2 linked regions of the Homo sapiens genome follow. The protein of the gene in region 2 purifies or fractionates together with the protein of the main gene of each other region. This does not show direct contact. Each region holds a gene or a part of one and is shown on either strand. Other genes may lie near its edges.

Region 1 (3,655 bases), on a different chromosome or scaffold from region 2:
CTTCTGCCCACCCAGGCTGGTCCCACAGAGCACCCTCTTGTTCTTGGTGGCCTACTGCAGTATCAATAATCTTTTCTTCAAAGATGAATAAAACAGGCTGCTGCCCACCCAGGCTGGTCCCACAGAGCACCCTCTTGTTCTTGGTGGCCTACTGCAGTATCAATAATCTTCTCTTCAAAGATGAATAAACTCTCTTGCAACAATTTAAGCCCATTTACTCTCAGTCTTTCTTTCTGTGGATGGAAATAAGGGGTCAGTGTCCATGTTTTACAGGTTTTAAAGCTATTTTTAAAATACCCCTCTTTATCTCAGCGGGAGAAAGAATTCCTTAAATTATTTTAACAGACCGTATTTTCGCCAGGTGTGGTGGCTCATGCCTACAATCCCAGTGACTTGGGAGGCTGAGGCAGGAGGACCACTTGAGGCCATGAGTTCAAGGCCGTAGTCAATGATGATCATGCCACTCACTACACTCCAGTTTAGGAAACAGAGAAAGACTTCATCTCTCAAAAAAAAATAAAAATAAAAAAAAATAAAAAGCCAGGCATGGAAGCTCACGCCTCTAATCCCAACACTTTGGGAAGCCCAGGCAGATGGATCACTTGAGACCAGGAGTTCGAGACCAGTCTGGCCAACATGGTGAAACCCCATCTCTACTACAAAGAAAACAAAAATTAGCCAGGCGTGGTGGCATATGGCTGTAATCCCAGCTATTCAGGAGGCTGAAATCAGAGGATCTCTTAAGCCTGGGAGACAGAGGTTGCAGTGAGCCGAGATCATGCCACTCCACTGTAGCCTGGGTGACAGAGCAAGACTCTGTCTCAAAAATAAAAATAAAATACAAATAAAAACCCCTACACAAAGACAAAAAAAAGAAACCATACTTCCAACTCCTTTGTCATTTTCTTGGTCTTTTCTGGGTGCTAAGTTCTTTATCACTTTTAAATATAGAGATATAGATAAAATGCAAACCATAAGCATATAATCCCTTAAAGGAGGAAATAATTGCTTGCTGTTAATGTAATCTGATATATAGACATTCAAACAAAAAGTGCCATATTCATTTCATATGTTGCAGCTTCCTATTCTTTACAACTTATATTGATTATAGTCAGAGCAACAGTAAAACCCACTATATATCTACAAGTCTGGGTTTATGGCTGTAATAACCGATAACATCCCTTTTTCATTTTCAGAAGTACCTCAGCTCAACTTCTATGGTCCCCATTGTGATAAAATAAAAGTGAGGAATGAGTGATTAGATGCATGAGTTCTGCACACAGACAGGCTCTGTTATCTTTCAAGATTTGAGCCTTTGGGAAAATTAATCACTTTAAGCCCCAGTTACGTCTTCTGCAAAATGAGTTCATTATTTAAACAAGTATCTCTGTGAGCTTACCATCTGCCAGGCAGTGTGCTAGGCACGGATGTGATAGTATTTGAGATGCCACTGCTGTCAAGGCTGAGGGAGACAGCAAATAAACACACAAACACATATCCTGAGTAGGCCAGGCGGCAGGAGGGAGAGTCTGGCTGAGGAATGGTGGAAGGAGGGGCTGCTACTGTAGAAGCAGGTCAGAGAAGGACTGGGCTTGGGGATATCTGAACAGGGACCTGAATGGCATGGTCCGATAAGCCACATGGATGCCTGGCAGAGGAAATGGCAAAAGCAAAAGCCCTGAGGTGGCAGCTGCTTCTTGGGTTTGAGGAACAGCAAAAAGGCCAGGGGGGCTGGAAGGGAGCAAGCGGGGGCAGTGATGGGACAAGTGGCTGGAGTGCGGGGAAAGGACAATGCAGGCAGCTCAGAGGTTGCCATGATGATTAAAGGAGATGATATAGGTAAACGCCTGCACTCAGGGGTGGCATATGTTATGAGTTCAGTAAACTATGGCTAGTAATATTTCTGAAATACTTTACATGAACATTTTACATCATCATTTTACAGTGTCCTTCGGAGTACATCCTGCGTGTGACCAAGCGTGTGTATGGAAGACACAATGTGTGTGTGTGCACCCACGTGGACCTAAAAGCAATAAGCAATTTAGTTCTTCGACAAACACAGATTTTGTTTCTCTTCCCTTCTAGGTGTAACTATGCGTGTACCTTCTCTGTAGTTTGAAAAAATTCATGGCAAGAATTCTACAGAGACCCTCTTTGGTGCCACCCACAAAGAAATGATATTTCTACTTTTCTTTTCTTTTTCTTTTTTTTTTTTTTTTTTTTTTTTGAGACAGAGTCTTGCTCTGTTGCCCAGGCTGGAGTGCAGTGGCGAGATCTCAGCTCACTGTAACCTCCACCTCCTGGGTTCAAGCAATTCTCCTGCCTCAGTCTCCCAAGTAGCTAGGATTACAGGCACGCACCACACGCCTGGCTAATTTTTTGTATTTTTAGTAGAGACAGGGTTTCACCAGGTTGGCCAGACTGGTTTCAAACTCCGGACCTCAAGTGATCCATCCGCACATCTCCGCCTCCCAAAGTGCTGGGATTACAGGTATGAGCCACTGCGCCTGGCCTGACATTTCTACTTTTCATTCCCCTCTTTAAAGAACTTAATGAACAGTAACACAGAGAAACAAAGGAGCTGGACAATGAGAAGCGCTCTTACGTTGTATCGGGCATCTAGGCCACCACAGCTCAGCGGCTGCTTCTGCTGCAGCCTCAGGTCTCCGTTCACGTATAACTGGGATCCCGGGACAGGAAAGGAGGACTGGAGAAACGCCATGCTCTGCATCACGAGGGTCGCCATCCTCTGAAATCATTAGAAGGACCAACAATACCAACCGCCATCAGATCTGAAGGGCTCTGGGTGCTAAGAGTCACCTGTCTTGGCTGAAACCTAAGAGGCCCTCACATACCTAGCGTAGCCATGCAGGAAACACTGCCTAGAACCTTCTGAGCTATTAATAGCCCATGTCAGTTAATATGACTAGTGAAAACCATTCCATTGGCCTAAGTTAAATCCCAAACTACATGGGGAAGAGGGCCCGCTAGAGTGCGGGTCTTCTAGAAATCAGAAGAAGGACTCTGGTCTACTAAAAAGACACAAGGGAGAGGACAGCCTCCCAGCGGACTGACTCACGTGTAATCGATAGGAGAAAGTCAGGATGAGCTGCACACCGAGAACGTGCTCCGTGGACTGCAGGGGAAGCTCCAGCTTAAAATGTAACATGTCCGTCTTCCCATCCTGGTTCCTGTCTTCTTCTCTAGTCTAGGAAACCCAAACAGGCCCAGCAGCCCTGGTCACTAATGAGTCTGGGAGGAATCCACATCACTTCTGTAAATACACAATGACCCACTGTCTTGCTGTACACAACAGGCATTATCTCCTCCACTAAAAGAGAAAAGCAGATAGATGTAAGTGCATTAATACTGGGGAGAGACACAAAGTGCATGGTCCCTGAACTTCATATCTGGGCCTTTCAAATGTTCACTGGCCAAAATAAATGGGCAATAACAAAAAACATCTGGATAGTATTTGTGCCTTTCAGTTGTCTCATGTGATCTTGCTTATTTTGCACTGATATTTTTTTCTTTTTTACAAATATGCCTGAATTTGTATGGAAATTTTAAGTAGCATGTCAGAATAGTCTTCTATGTCTCTAGAAGTCAACTTGTTAAAATAGAAAAACACCTAATCCTAATCATTATGCATTCC
Region 2 (3,655 bases):
ACAAAGTCTCTGTCCTTGTGGAACATTTGTTCTGTCAGAGAAGACAGTGTGTTGGCTCACATTGTGGTCAGTGCTGTTGAGCAAAATAGGTCAGAGTAAGGGGGATGGAGACTGGTGGGAGGAATGCTGCTTTATCCAGGATGGGCAGGGAGGACTCGATGGTGTCAGCACTGAAGGATGTAAGATCTGCTGCTCTGGGGAGAGGAGCAGCATGGAAGGAGTAGAGTGCAGAGGCCATGAGGAAGGATCAGGCTTGACTCCTTTGAGCAAGGGGGATGGGAGAGTGACGGGAGAAGAGGACAGGCCACATGGCCTGGTGGCCTGTGCTGAGGCCTTGGGCTTTTACTCAAGTGAGATGAGATGCCATTGGCCAGTTTGGGCAGTGATGTGATCAGACTTGTTTCAGCAGGACCATCCTGCTTGCAATGTGGAGAGCAGGCTGTAGGGGGTGCTATAGGAGCACAAGGTTGGAGGCAGGGAAGATGGCAGCACTGGCTGTTGGGCCATTTGAAGAAGCAAGGCCAGGGATGTTGGCAGGGACCAGGCCAGAGTGCCTCCAATGGCTAACTAAGGAGCCTGGACATTGAATTTCTAGGTTAGCTTAGGATTTCTCATCCTCCCATCTGTGAATGTCATAGATCTCTCATTTTGCCTGAGTCTTTTATGCAATGATATTTTATTTGTAATATTTTCCCGGTTTTTGATTGTTTTTTAACAAATGAATTTTTTAAGAGACTTAATTTTTTAAGAGAAACTTTAATTTCCCAGCAAAAGTGAGAGGAAGGTAGAGAGATTTCCCATCTATCCCCTGCCCCTACACACGCATTGCTTCTCCTACTATCAACATCCCCCACCAGACCAGTGCATCTGTTACCATCGGTGAGCCCACATTACACTGACATATCCACATCACCTGAAACCCATAGTTTACATTAGGGTTCATTCTTGGTGTTGCATGATCTGTGGGTTTGGACAAACGTATGAAGACATGTATTCCACCATTATAGTATCATGCAGAGTATTTTCACTGCCCTAAAAGTCCTCTGTGTTCCCTGTACTCATCTTTCCCACCTTGTCTTGCCTGTTTCTGTTAGGTTTAGTCCGAGGCCTAGCAGAGGGAATGGGCAGAAGTTTCCAGTTCCAGGCTTCACCCCAGGCTCGCAGCTTCAAGCAGAGCCTGTCGCTTAGGCTCCCTTGCACCTGGAGTCGAAACCATGGCTCCCATTCACCTGTCTCTTATTTTCCTGTCCTTCCCACTCCTCACTCACCTACTATTCATTTCCATTTTTGGATGAGGATTCTCCTTTATTGCTTTTTAACTAAAAACCTGTTTTAGTTAGCATCTTTATTCTAATTTCTTTAAATGCTATGTCATACTCAGCAAGGACATGCTCATATTAGGGGAAGCACATAAAGTAAGATATCCCTGAGAGAACAGTGCATCTCACACCCATTCCATGGCTTAGGCTTATGCAGGAAGTGCAATATTTGGCCATATCACTTAAGTACATATGCTTATATTATGTATACTTGCATGCATATTACATTTACAAGTAGATGAATTCGTGTAAGTTAAATGGTTCTATTATATGTCTTCACTATATTAAGGTCAGTCACAATTTAATTGAAATAGATCATCCTAGGTGAATCCACCTGGCATAATTATCAGCCCTGTTAAGCACAGACACAGGAGATGCAAAGGAAAGAAGTATTCAGTAGAGCGGTGGTGCTGGGCTGAGTACCTGCTATCAGACGCAGCACTTACCAGTTTGGAAATTGAATGGGGCTCCTAGAAAACATCCTTGTTTCATGTAAATGTTGCTTTTTACCCCTCTTTCTTTGGGCCCCATCAATTTGGAAGTACAGCTTTCAGATTGAAGTATGTGTCAGTTCCTTTGTGTCCAAACAAGATGGCTAAGTAGGTCGTCATGACAGGTAACTACCAGTGCTTTAAAAACTTTAGGATTTCCCCCCACAGTTCTCAATCACTTGGTTCATTGTTCAGCAATATGGCCTAAGGGGGTGATTTCTTCATTGATAAGTGACAGGGCAGGGACACTGGAAAGATCTATTGTCAGAAGGCCTGGATTCAGGTTCAAGGCCTGGTTCTTAGTAATTTTGTGACCAAGCAATCGCTGAGGTGGCTGGGCGTGGTGGCTCGCACCTGTAATCCCAGCACTTTGGGAGGCCAAGGCGGGCAGATCACGAGGTCAGGAGATAGAGACCATCCTGGCTAACACAGTGAAACCTCGTCTCCACTGAAAAATAGAAAAAATTAGCCAGGCCTGGTGGCCGGCGCCTGTAGTCCCAGCTACTTGGGAGGCTGAGGCAGTAGAATGGCGTGAACCCGGGAGGTGGAGCTTGCAGTGAGCCAAGGTCGCGCCACTGCACTGCAGCCTGGGTGACAGAGCAAGACTGGGTCTCAAAAAAAAAAAAAAAAAATCATTTGATAAATAATGGGCTGTGCATGGTGACTCAGGCCTGTAATCCCAGCACTTTGGGAGGCCAAGGTGGGTGGATTACCTGAGGTCAGGAGTTCAAGACCAGCCTGGCCAACATGGTGAAACCCTGTCTTTACTAAAAATACAAAAATTAGCTGGGCGTCTCCAAAAAAAAAAAAAAAGAAAAAGAAAAATCACTGAGCTACTGTATCCTCATAGAGAATAATTACAGTAATGTGTATGTGCGTGTGTTTTGGTAATCTTTTATCTTGGATTTATCAAACCTACAGAAAAGTTGCAAGAACAGTAGAAGGAATGGCTGTATACTCTTCACACTTATTCACCACTTGCTTACCTGTTGTCCCACTTGCTTTGCCATTTTTTCTCTCTCCCTCTGTTTTCCCCTGAAACATTGGAGAGTAACTTTGAGTCCTCATACTCTTCCCCTATAAAATTTCAATGTGTGTTTCCTGAGATCAACAATGTTCTTATATATAACCCAGAATAAATATCTGAGTCAGGAAATTTGACATTGATATTGCCTATTAGCTAATCCTTAGACCAAATTTAAATTCTGTCAATTATTTTGTTGATGTACCTGTGGCTTTTTTTTTTTTTCTGAATCAAGAATCCAATCAATCCAGGACTGTGTGTTGTGTTGCATTTAGTTGTCATGTTTCTTCATGTCCTTCCGTCTACTCCTTTGCCTTCCTTTGCCCTTCTTTTTTTCTCCCACCATCTATCTAACCAGATGAACTTTGTCTTTCTTGATCTTGTTACTTTTTAAAAAATAGGTGAGTTCTTGTGGTTTTTTTTCCTGACATATCCTCATTATTAGATTTGGATTGTATACTTTTGTCAGAAGCAGCCCAGAAAGGATGTGTCCTTGGTCATGTCAGGAGGGACAGGACGTTGTATCAATATGTCTGGTTCCTCATTAAATTTGCAACTACTCTTTTAGCCTTTATTGTTTATTTTCTGACTCTGTTTTTTTTTTCTTTAGCCAACTCACGCCATGACTCTACTTTTGCTTCTATGTTTATTAGTTGGCATTCTGTACTAAGACAGCTTTACCCTTCTTGCCTACTTATTTATGTCAGTATGAGCTCAGAAGTTCTTATTCAGGGGCTTATAATACAGTACTCTTATTATTTTATGGTTACACAGTCCCAACTTTGTCCTGTGGGAACCCTTTCAGGCTGGCTCTTATGTTC

Evidence for each region. The genes of interacting proteins can lie anywhere in the genome.
Region 1: the proteins of TIGAR (region 2) and TMEM231 purify together in Homo sapiens (co-immunoprecipitation; one large-scale study listed by IntAct). This does not show direct contact.

What each region holds. Positions count from the first base shown.
Region 1 is NC_000016.10:75,542,747-75,546,401, forward strand, and holds part of TMEM231 (transmembrane protein 231), read right to left. Parts: intron 3,332-3,655; exon of another isoform or gene 3,209-3,331; coding exon 3,080-3,208; intron 2,750-3,079; coding exon 2,606-2,749; intron 1-2,605. UniProt on the Homo sapiens protein: Transmembrane component of the tectonic-like complex, a complex localized at the transition zone of primary cilia and acting as a barrier that prevents diffusion of transmembrane proteins between the cilia and plasma membranes.
Region 2 is NC_000012.12:4,355,680-4,359,334, forward strand, and holds part of TIGAR (fructose-2,6-bisphosphatase TIGAR), read left to right. Parts: 3' UTR 1-3,655.